Homo sapiens: one gene and its partner. The protein of the gene in region 1 interacts with the protein of each later gene in a biochemical or structural test. Each region holds a gene or a part of one and is shown on either strand. Other genes may lie near its edges.

What was found. Proteins that work in one complex are often made in the same cells at the same time.
Region 2: the proteins of DSCAM (region 1) and PTPRM interact in a biophysical measurement, tested with the Homo sapiens proteins (one large-scale study listed by IntAct).

The regions. Positions count from the first base shown.
Region 1 is NC_000021.9:40,844,359-40,848,366, forward strand, and holds the start of DSCAM (cell adhesion molecule DSCAM isoform CHD2-42 precursor), read right to left. Parts: upstream 2,801-4,008; 5' UTR 2,304-2,800; coding exon 2,261-2,303; intron 1-2,260. UniProt on the Homo sapiens protein: Cell adhesion molecule that plays a role in neuronal self-avoidance. Promotes repulsion between specific neuronal processes of either the same cell or the same subtype of cells.
Region 2 is NC_000018.10:8,378,816-8,382,315, reverse strand, and holds part of PTPRM (receptor-type tyrosine-protein phosphatase mu isoform 1 precursor), read right to left. Parts: intron 3,150-3,500; coding exon 2,976-3,149; intron 2,021-2,975; coding exon 1,889-2,020; intron 1-1,888. UniProt on the Homo sapiens protein: Receptor protein-tyrosine phosphatase that mediates homotypic cell-cell interactions and plays a role in adipogenic differentiation via modulation of p120 catenin/CTNND1 phosphorylation.

The sequences.
Region 1 (4,008 bases):
TTTTAATGTTTTCATCCTTGATCATATAAAGAGAGGGGCATTTTTATACAAGACAGTTCCATAGCCTTCTGCTAGATTGGATCAGAATACGTAATACAGCAATGTAAAATATTCATTTGTGTTTGCTGTTTATGTCTAATATTGTGGAATCTACCTATATTTATTACAATAATGGTGATTATCAGTTGATTTTAAAAGTCTTGAAAATAATACTTGCAGAACTCACTATATGAGTACCTACATAATTTTTGCATATATTTTTCATATTGCAGAATATTTGAGGTTTCATATAATTGTATTACCATATATAATTATTTCTATGATTGTTTATTTTAGTTATAAAATGCTGATTCAGAAAAAAAGTCACACACACATATAGCATCTCTGTATCAGAGGCTAATAGTCTGTATCAGTATCATAAATTCTTCCATACCATTTTGTCATACAAAATGCTAAAACTGTAAATAAATACTGGCTGACTGACAACCAGCACAGCCTCTTTCATCATCCTGAAACACACACTTCCCAATGGGGTGCAAATTTTGTTTCTTCTTATAACCCAGGCCTTTCCAAGGAGTTCAGAAAGGTACTCCCTGACAGGCGAAACAGGGTGTCAAGGCTCTGTGTCTTTGGAACACATGTGTAGGCATCTCTACATTTCTTAGGAGGTCGCATTAGCAGAAGAGCAGAAAGGGCTGACTTCCCCGACACATCTCCGCATGTTCCCTAAGCACATCTGTCCCTGAAGGGAAATTCCCAGGAGGACACAGGACAGGTATGGTGCCCTCTGGGAAAGATGGGTGTCTTGTCAGAACTTGTTGCAATTCTTTCCTGCTAGGAAATCTCAAAATGAAAGTTTCAAACACTTTGCTTTAGGTTATACTGGAGAGCAAAGTATCATTTTCATGTTCATTTTGATAGTACCTTCTTTCAACTCTACCTTTTCTTAGTCACCGTTTTTTTAAAAAATTGACAATGCTCATGCATTTCTTCTGGCCTGTTGGTATGCTGATTCTTTAGGCACTGTCTAGGTAGGCAAAGAAAATGCACTGCCTTGCAGCCAACACACAGAGCTTCCCTGTGTGTCTTCCAGGAAAATCTTAGAGCCTCCCCTTTGCTTCTCGTATTTTCTCACAAGGGCCAGATTTCCTCTCTTCTCTTCTTTTACCTTCTCTTCTTCTCCTCTCTCTCTCTCTCTCTCTCTCTCTCTCTGTCTCTGTGTCTGTCTCGCTCTCTCTCCCTCCTCTCTTTCTCTCTCTCTCTCTCCTCTCTTCTGGCTAGGGGATTCTGCTTAATGGTTTAATTTCAACTGTCAGTAGGTTATACATTTTATGCAGATGTGTGTTCCAAAATTTGAAATGGGAATTTAAGCCGTAGCTACTCCCAGGCGATGTCAAATGATGACAATTTCCTCTGGTTCCCACAAGAGAGGAAGCCATTCATACATGTAAGTTCATATTTATGCGGTGACAGGCAGCCTAAGGTGCAGTCACACTTACTAATTGGGTCTGACTCAGTCAAGAGCAATAGCTTTCTAAATACCCAGGAAGAAATCATTTCAAAATATAATATTGGCTGGGCATGAGGAAATGTATGCTATTTACAATATTCACTGATTTCATTTTTACAACTATACAGGTGTTTTTTTTTTTTTAATTTGTCAACATTTCAGATGATGTAATGCTTATCAGTGCATATTTTTACATAAACGACTGTGAGGAGCATGAAGCAGCACGGGGTGCATAGAAGGACAGAACATTCTTAAAGCCCTCCTTGGTGCTGGAGATACATTGTACTAGCATGAAATTACGTGTTTGAAAAATCTCAAAAAGCATTGAATCTGAAGGGAGATGTTCCTCATTGACCCCTCCACTTGCGTGCACTTGGAATGTCACATCCCTTTCCAGGTTGTAATATTCAAAGTGGCAATCTTCCTGTCTCTCCTTCTGTCACCAAACCTGGTTTATTCTGAATGAGGCAGCTCTCTAGTACTGGAGTTAGGCTCTGAGCTGTCACTTGGCTAGGTAAGCGCCTTCCAATGATTACAGAGCAATTTCTCCCGGGCCTCTCCATTGCCACCTCTTCTCCCCCAAAAAATAAATATGATATTTAAAAAATAAATAAAAGCACGAAATTTTAAACACAGATGAAGCGGAAAAAGAAAGAAGACTTTACCCATGCATCCAATGCCACCCCCCACCCCCCCGCCCCCCCGGTCAATGATAAGGAAACGAAATTCATCACAAACCGAAAGGCTCACCATTCGCGAAGCTCTGGAACAAGGAGAGAGCCAGTATCCACATGCCCCTGCCGCTCCCCGGCCTCCCGCGAGCGACGCGCCGGCCTCGCCCCCCGCGCTCCGCCCGGCCCGGCTCCGCTCGCCGCTCGGCACCTGCCCGGGGGCCGCCGCCCGCCCGCCGCCCGCCGCCGCCGCCGCCGCTGCCTAGCCGCCCGGGCACGCGGCGCGGCCGGGCTCCGGAGCGAGGGCTGCGCTCGCCGCGCGCTGCGCTCCTGCACACCTGCTCCCGGGCGCCGCGCCCCACGCTGCGGCCGGAGCCCAGGTGCGCCGTCAGCTCAGTGGGCCCCCGGCAGGTCGGCAGGTGGAGAGAGCCGCAGACGCGGGCGTGAGCTCATCCCGGGCACTCGGCGCCCAGAATGCGCAGCCAGCGGCCTCCCGTGCGCCAGCCCTCACCCTCCGCATCCAGGCAGCAGGCGGGCGGGCAGGCTCATCTTTGCCGTGCTCCGGCCTCAGTCACATGGATCCCTCTGCCAACCTTCCCTGCCTGCGAGCCGGGCGAGTGAAGCCGAGCGCGGAGGCGAGCAGGGACCCCTCCCCTGCCTCTGGCCGCTGGGGCGCTCTGCAGTCTTAAAGCAGCAGCAGAGACGTGCAGCCGAACTGAGGCAGGACCGGGGAGAGCGCAGCCACCGCACAGTCACGCACAGTCATCAGGAGGAATTTCTTAGAGGCTTAAATAATCATTTCAACAGCTGCTTATTTTTAGTTATTTTCCTGCCGGTTGCTAATAAGGGATGGCCGGGGTGACTATTGCGGAAGGTGGCCAGCCACGGAGAGGTGAACATGAAATGCTCGTAGTTTTAATAAAATGTGCAGCTGGATTCCGATTCCGTATTTACTCTCAGAAAAGTCCAGTTCATTTGCTTAGAGGGAAATGCTCCTTCCAAATCCTTGCTGCTACTGTAAAGATCTCTATGATTTCACGGGCTAATTTTTAATTATCTTGAATACATGGTAGAATGCAAACACAAGCACTTCTAATTTTGCTCTCTGAATGGCGCATAAAAAAGCTGATTGAAATTGCTGATAATTTGAGTAATCCCAAACATATAGCCCCTTTCACGTTTCTGTGAAAAGTCAATATGTTAACATTTCCTGAATGTTCTGTATGATTCTTGAAGTCATGATAATATTTAAATTAAAGCTCTCACAAGGGCGTACATCTATCCATCACTTTGCAATATAATGACCGACAGGGCTGGAATGCACCCCAGTGTAGAAGCCAGGATGGAATGCTCACAGTCAGGACAATCAGGACTGAAAAAAAGCATTCGGTGGGGGTCAAGGGAGACATTTTCAAGGGAAATTGAGTAGGCTTTTTCCTAGGCACTAGGTATCCTAACTGGGCTCCATGTCCCCCTCCAAATACAGAAGAATGATGCACATCTCAGACAGCTCACAAAACACAGGAGAAGCAAATGGTGAGGCAGAAACAAAATGGTGCTTTACCAGGGTTGGGCACAAGATGGCCAGGCCCTGTGTACCAGGAAGGGTCAGCTGAGCCGGTGATGCTGCCTGGCTCACCACGGCTCTGCAGCTGCAGGTGATCACGTGCTGCCGCCCACTCAGGCTGCGCAGGCCCAGCCCCCAGTACCACGCACCAGAACCAGCATCCTCTGGCTTTGCAAATGCTGGGTGCTCAGTCCCTGGTCCTTCCCAAATGCAACCCAGGAAGGCAGGGGATGGGCCTGATTCTGTCCCTGCATCTGGCT
Region 2 (3,500 bases), on another chromosome or scaffold:
CTTACACCAAAGAAATATGAGTGACGTGGGTTGCACTTGCCTCTTGGCACATTGCATTCTATGCTCTGCCCAAGTAAACCATGTAGAAAATGGCTTAAATGGTGCATAACACGTCCGTGAACCGGACCTATAAATACTTAAAATAGTTGAGTGCTATTCTTGTAGAATTGCAAAGCCTTTACATTCAAATGCTCAGTTTAGTGTTCGCTAAAAGACTGAATCCCAGGAGCCTCTTTTCTCTCACTCTGAAAATCAGCTCTGTCTGCTGAATAGAACTGGAGTCTTTTTGTCTCTCCTACCCATGAGCCAGCCAAGGCTTGGTTTGAGTCCAGATAGTTCGGGTTTAGAATGCGGCTTTAGAATTCCAATGCAGTTTTTCAAAAAGAATGCACTAGAATCACTGATGTCTTGTTCACTAATATGAACAAAAATATCTCCACATTTCAGGATTCACATTAAGAAAAAAACCATCATGATTCTAAATAAGGAAGAAGTCCCTTATTCTATAAGTGTCTGCAACTTAAGACTCTAGAATTAGTGAAATTTCGGCCGTGCCACTGTAAGTGAGAAAATCAGGACCCTTGGTTCTATTTTGAGTTGGGTCTTTGAAGCTTCACAAGCCGTGGTGTCTGCTTGTCTTTATAAATGACTGTAAGCTAACCTTCTCAGAGCATCAGTGGGGAAGAGTTTTAAAATATTTAAGCTTCTTAAGCCAAAAGGACTGGATAAGAACAAAGATTATCATTACTATTTCATTAACCAGCTTTCAGGCAAGAGCTTTGACAATATAATGCAGTGCCTCAGACATAATTAAAAACCTTATAGAACTGAATTGAATGTCCATGCCATTTATGGCTGGATGATGGCAAGAAAACAGATTGTAGGAAGGAAAAATCTTGCCATCATGTCCAGTTGGGATGCCGAAATGCTTCAGACTTTTTTTTTTTTTTTTTTTAAGAAAAAGAATTTGTGTCTACTGGACAGGAAATTAATTCATTTCCAGAACAAGTTTTTTCTTAAAACACGCTAAGGTCAAACTTCCCATAATGCCTACTGTCATGGTGGTTGTCTATGATTGGTATAGGCACATCCCAAAGCAATAAATTCATCTCCTAAAGGACCACTGTGCTAATGCTTGCCTGACAACCTGCTTCAAGAAAATGTGTCTAACTCCATTACTAACATTGAGTCATCACTGTCCAATTCTTTCTCTTTAATGTTTAAGAGTAACTATGCAAAAGCCCCATTTATCATTCCAAACTTCTCTTATCTCCAAGTCCCAGTATTATTTCTTTTTAATATCTTTACTAAAGCATTGAGAAAACTAATTGCTGTGCCTTAAAATTGCTTGCCTGTCTCTGCTGTCACCCCGACACTGTCACCCTGCATGACAATCTCTACCTGCCCTGCATGACGATCTCTACCTGTAGGCTCCCGGTGAGCTGTGCCAGGAAGCACACAGTCACTCCAGGAATGGGATCTGGGCTGGGTCAAACGCTATCTTCCCTTCTCCACTGTCCTCTGGTTTGCTCATTCTGCTTTGGCTCTGCGATGTTCAGGTTCCTGCTGAGCTCCAACTCGGTCTGCGACCTTGTCAACCTCCAGTGAGTATTTCCATCTTTTAGGAACAGCTCAACTTCTGGCCGTGTCTTGCCCTGTCACCTCAACCATCTATGATTTCAGCCTGTATTTCTGGTTTCAACTGACTTTCTAACCCCTAATTCCGCCTGATTTTTAACCGTTGTGTTCAGCATCCCCAGTTCTCAACTTCAACTGGCACTTGAGATCTGGCACTAGGGCCTGCACTTCTCGGGTGCAAACAAACTCAGTGTAAAAACAAACTTGACCCCCTGGCACTAGTTCTGACTGTAAGAAGTCCGGGTCTCACCTGGGCAGGATCCACATCATTTAGCATAACTACGGATGTGCAGTGATAATCCAGGACCAGTCTCCAAAAGTCTTTCACTGTGTTTGGCAAAGGATGCTGGGTGACTATAAAAGCTGAAGGCTGTTTATAGCTCTGCAAACACAAACAAGAATGCTCCAAATATACTCAGGAAAATGGGAAGAGAAGAAGCTAGGTTATTTCATGCAGAAGGAAGCTTGTGGCACAAAACACTGAACATGTTTAACAGCTGTTGAATTCTGTCACCATTGTCAGCACCAACATAGACTAAATATAAACTTCTCTGCAGAATAATAGTGATAAAAGTCTTACTTTGATACCAAGAAAACTTAATTAGTATCTCTTATCAATTTTTAAAATATTTCTGGTAGAGAGGCAATATCGAATCTATACATAATTATCTTGATGGAGAAAATTTAACTTTACTTTTAAAATTACACATAATTAAAAGTTCTGCTTTTTCTAAAACTTGTTTGCTAGCAATTTGTATGTGTGACAGTGTTCTTATTTCTGCCGTAAAGAATACATGTACTTTTTTTTTACAGCTCTGAAGAGCTTCAAAAAAGTTCAGGTACCTTTTATGATATGACACCAACAGAATTAAAATTTCCGTGTTAGCACAGAACATACCCATTCACTCTTTGCATCAACGGAATAGCAATAAGAAAACAGACTGGCAGGAAGTAATGAGTTGAACTTTCCCCTATGTTAACTGCAGGCTAAATTACAGGAAAATGAACTAAAATAATGCTGCAAATCTATTAACCCATTTTCCTGCCATGGTGTCCCCTGTTCCCCAGCCAGCAGGTTAAAAGTCTCAGCTCTCAGAGGGCAACTGTGCCATGCTGCATTTACGGATACTCCTGGCCTGGTGGTCTTTGAGAAACGAAGGATATCAGCCCCGACACAAAAACATACGTGGAATCTGAAATCTATTTTTTGTTGGAAAAAAAAGTTTGTGTCTTAAAAAACAAAAGGGCTGGTGAGCAGAATGGGGAAGACCCAAGCCTGTTCTGCAGTCTCCCCAAACACCCCAGCCTCGGACCCGTGCGGGAAGCGGGGCACTCACGTCCATGAGGGCAGCATTGATGTAGTTGCTGCTCTCCCCATCGATGGTGATGAGGAAGGGCAGGCAGCGGTCTGGGGGCAGGATGTCCATGCACCGGTTTTTCTCATGGTTCCGGGGCAACAGTGCGATGCTGCAGTCCTCTACTCGCAGCGTTGGTGTCACCATGTTTAGCGTCTGCGTGAGAAAAGAAAGGAACATGAGGACAAGAAGCCTTGGCAGCGGACTCCTCTCACGTGCAGTTTTCGAAAGATGCAAACTTCCTGTGGCTGACTGCAAGACGGTCCCTTCCCCCTCCCTCCCCAACCCACCATAGTTCGAGTTTTCTTTCTTTTGCTCCTTGGATTTCGTCCACTGACAGTGCCCATCAGACACAGGGGCCAGAGGCAGAGGCGTAAGGGCCACTGTGGGTCCCTAGAATTAAGAGCCCTCAAGTCCCAGTGGAGTGAGGCACCTGGGGATTTGGGAGGTCAGAGGTGGGGGAAGAGTCTGGCCTTGACTCGGGTACATCTGGACAAAATGCATATG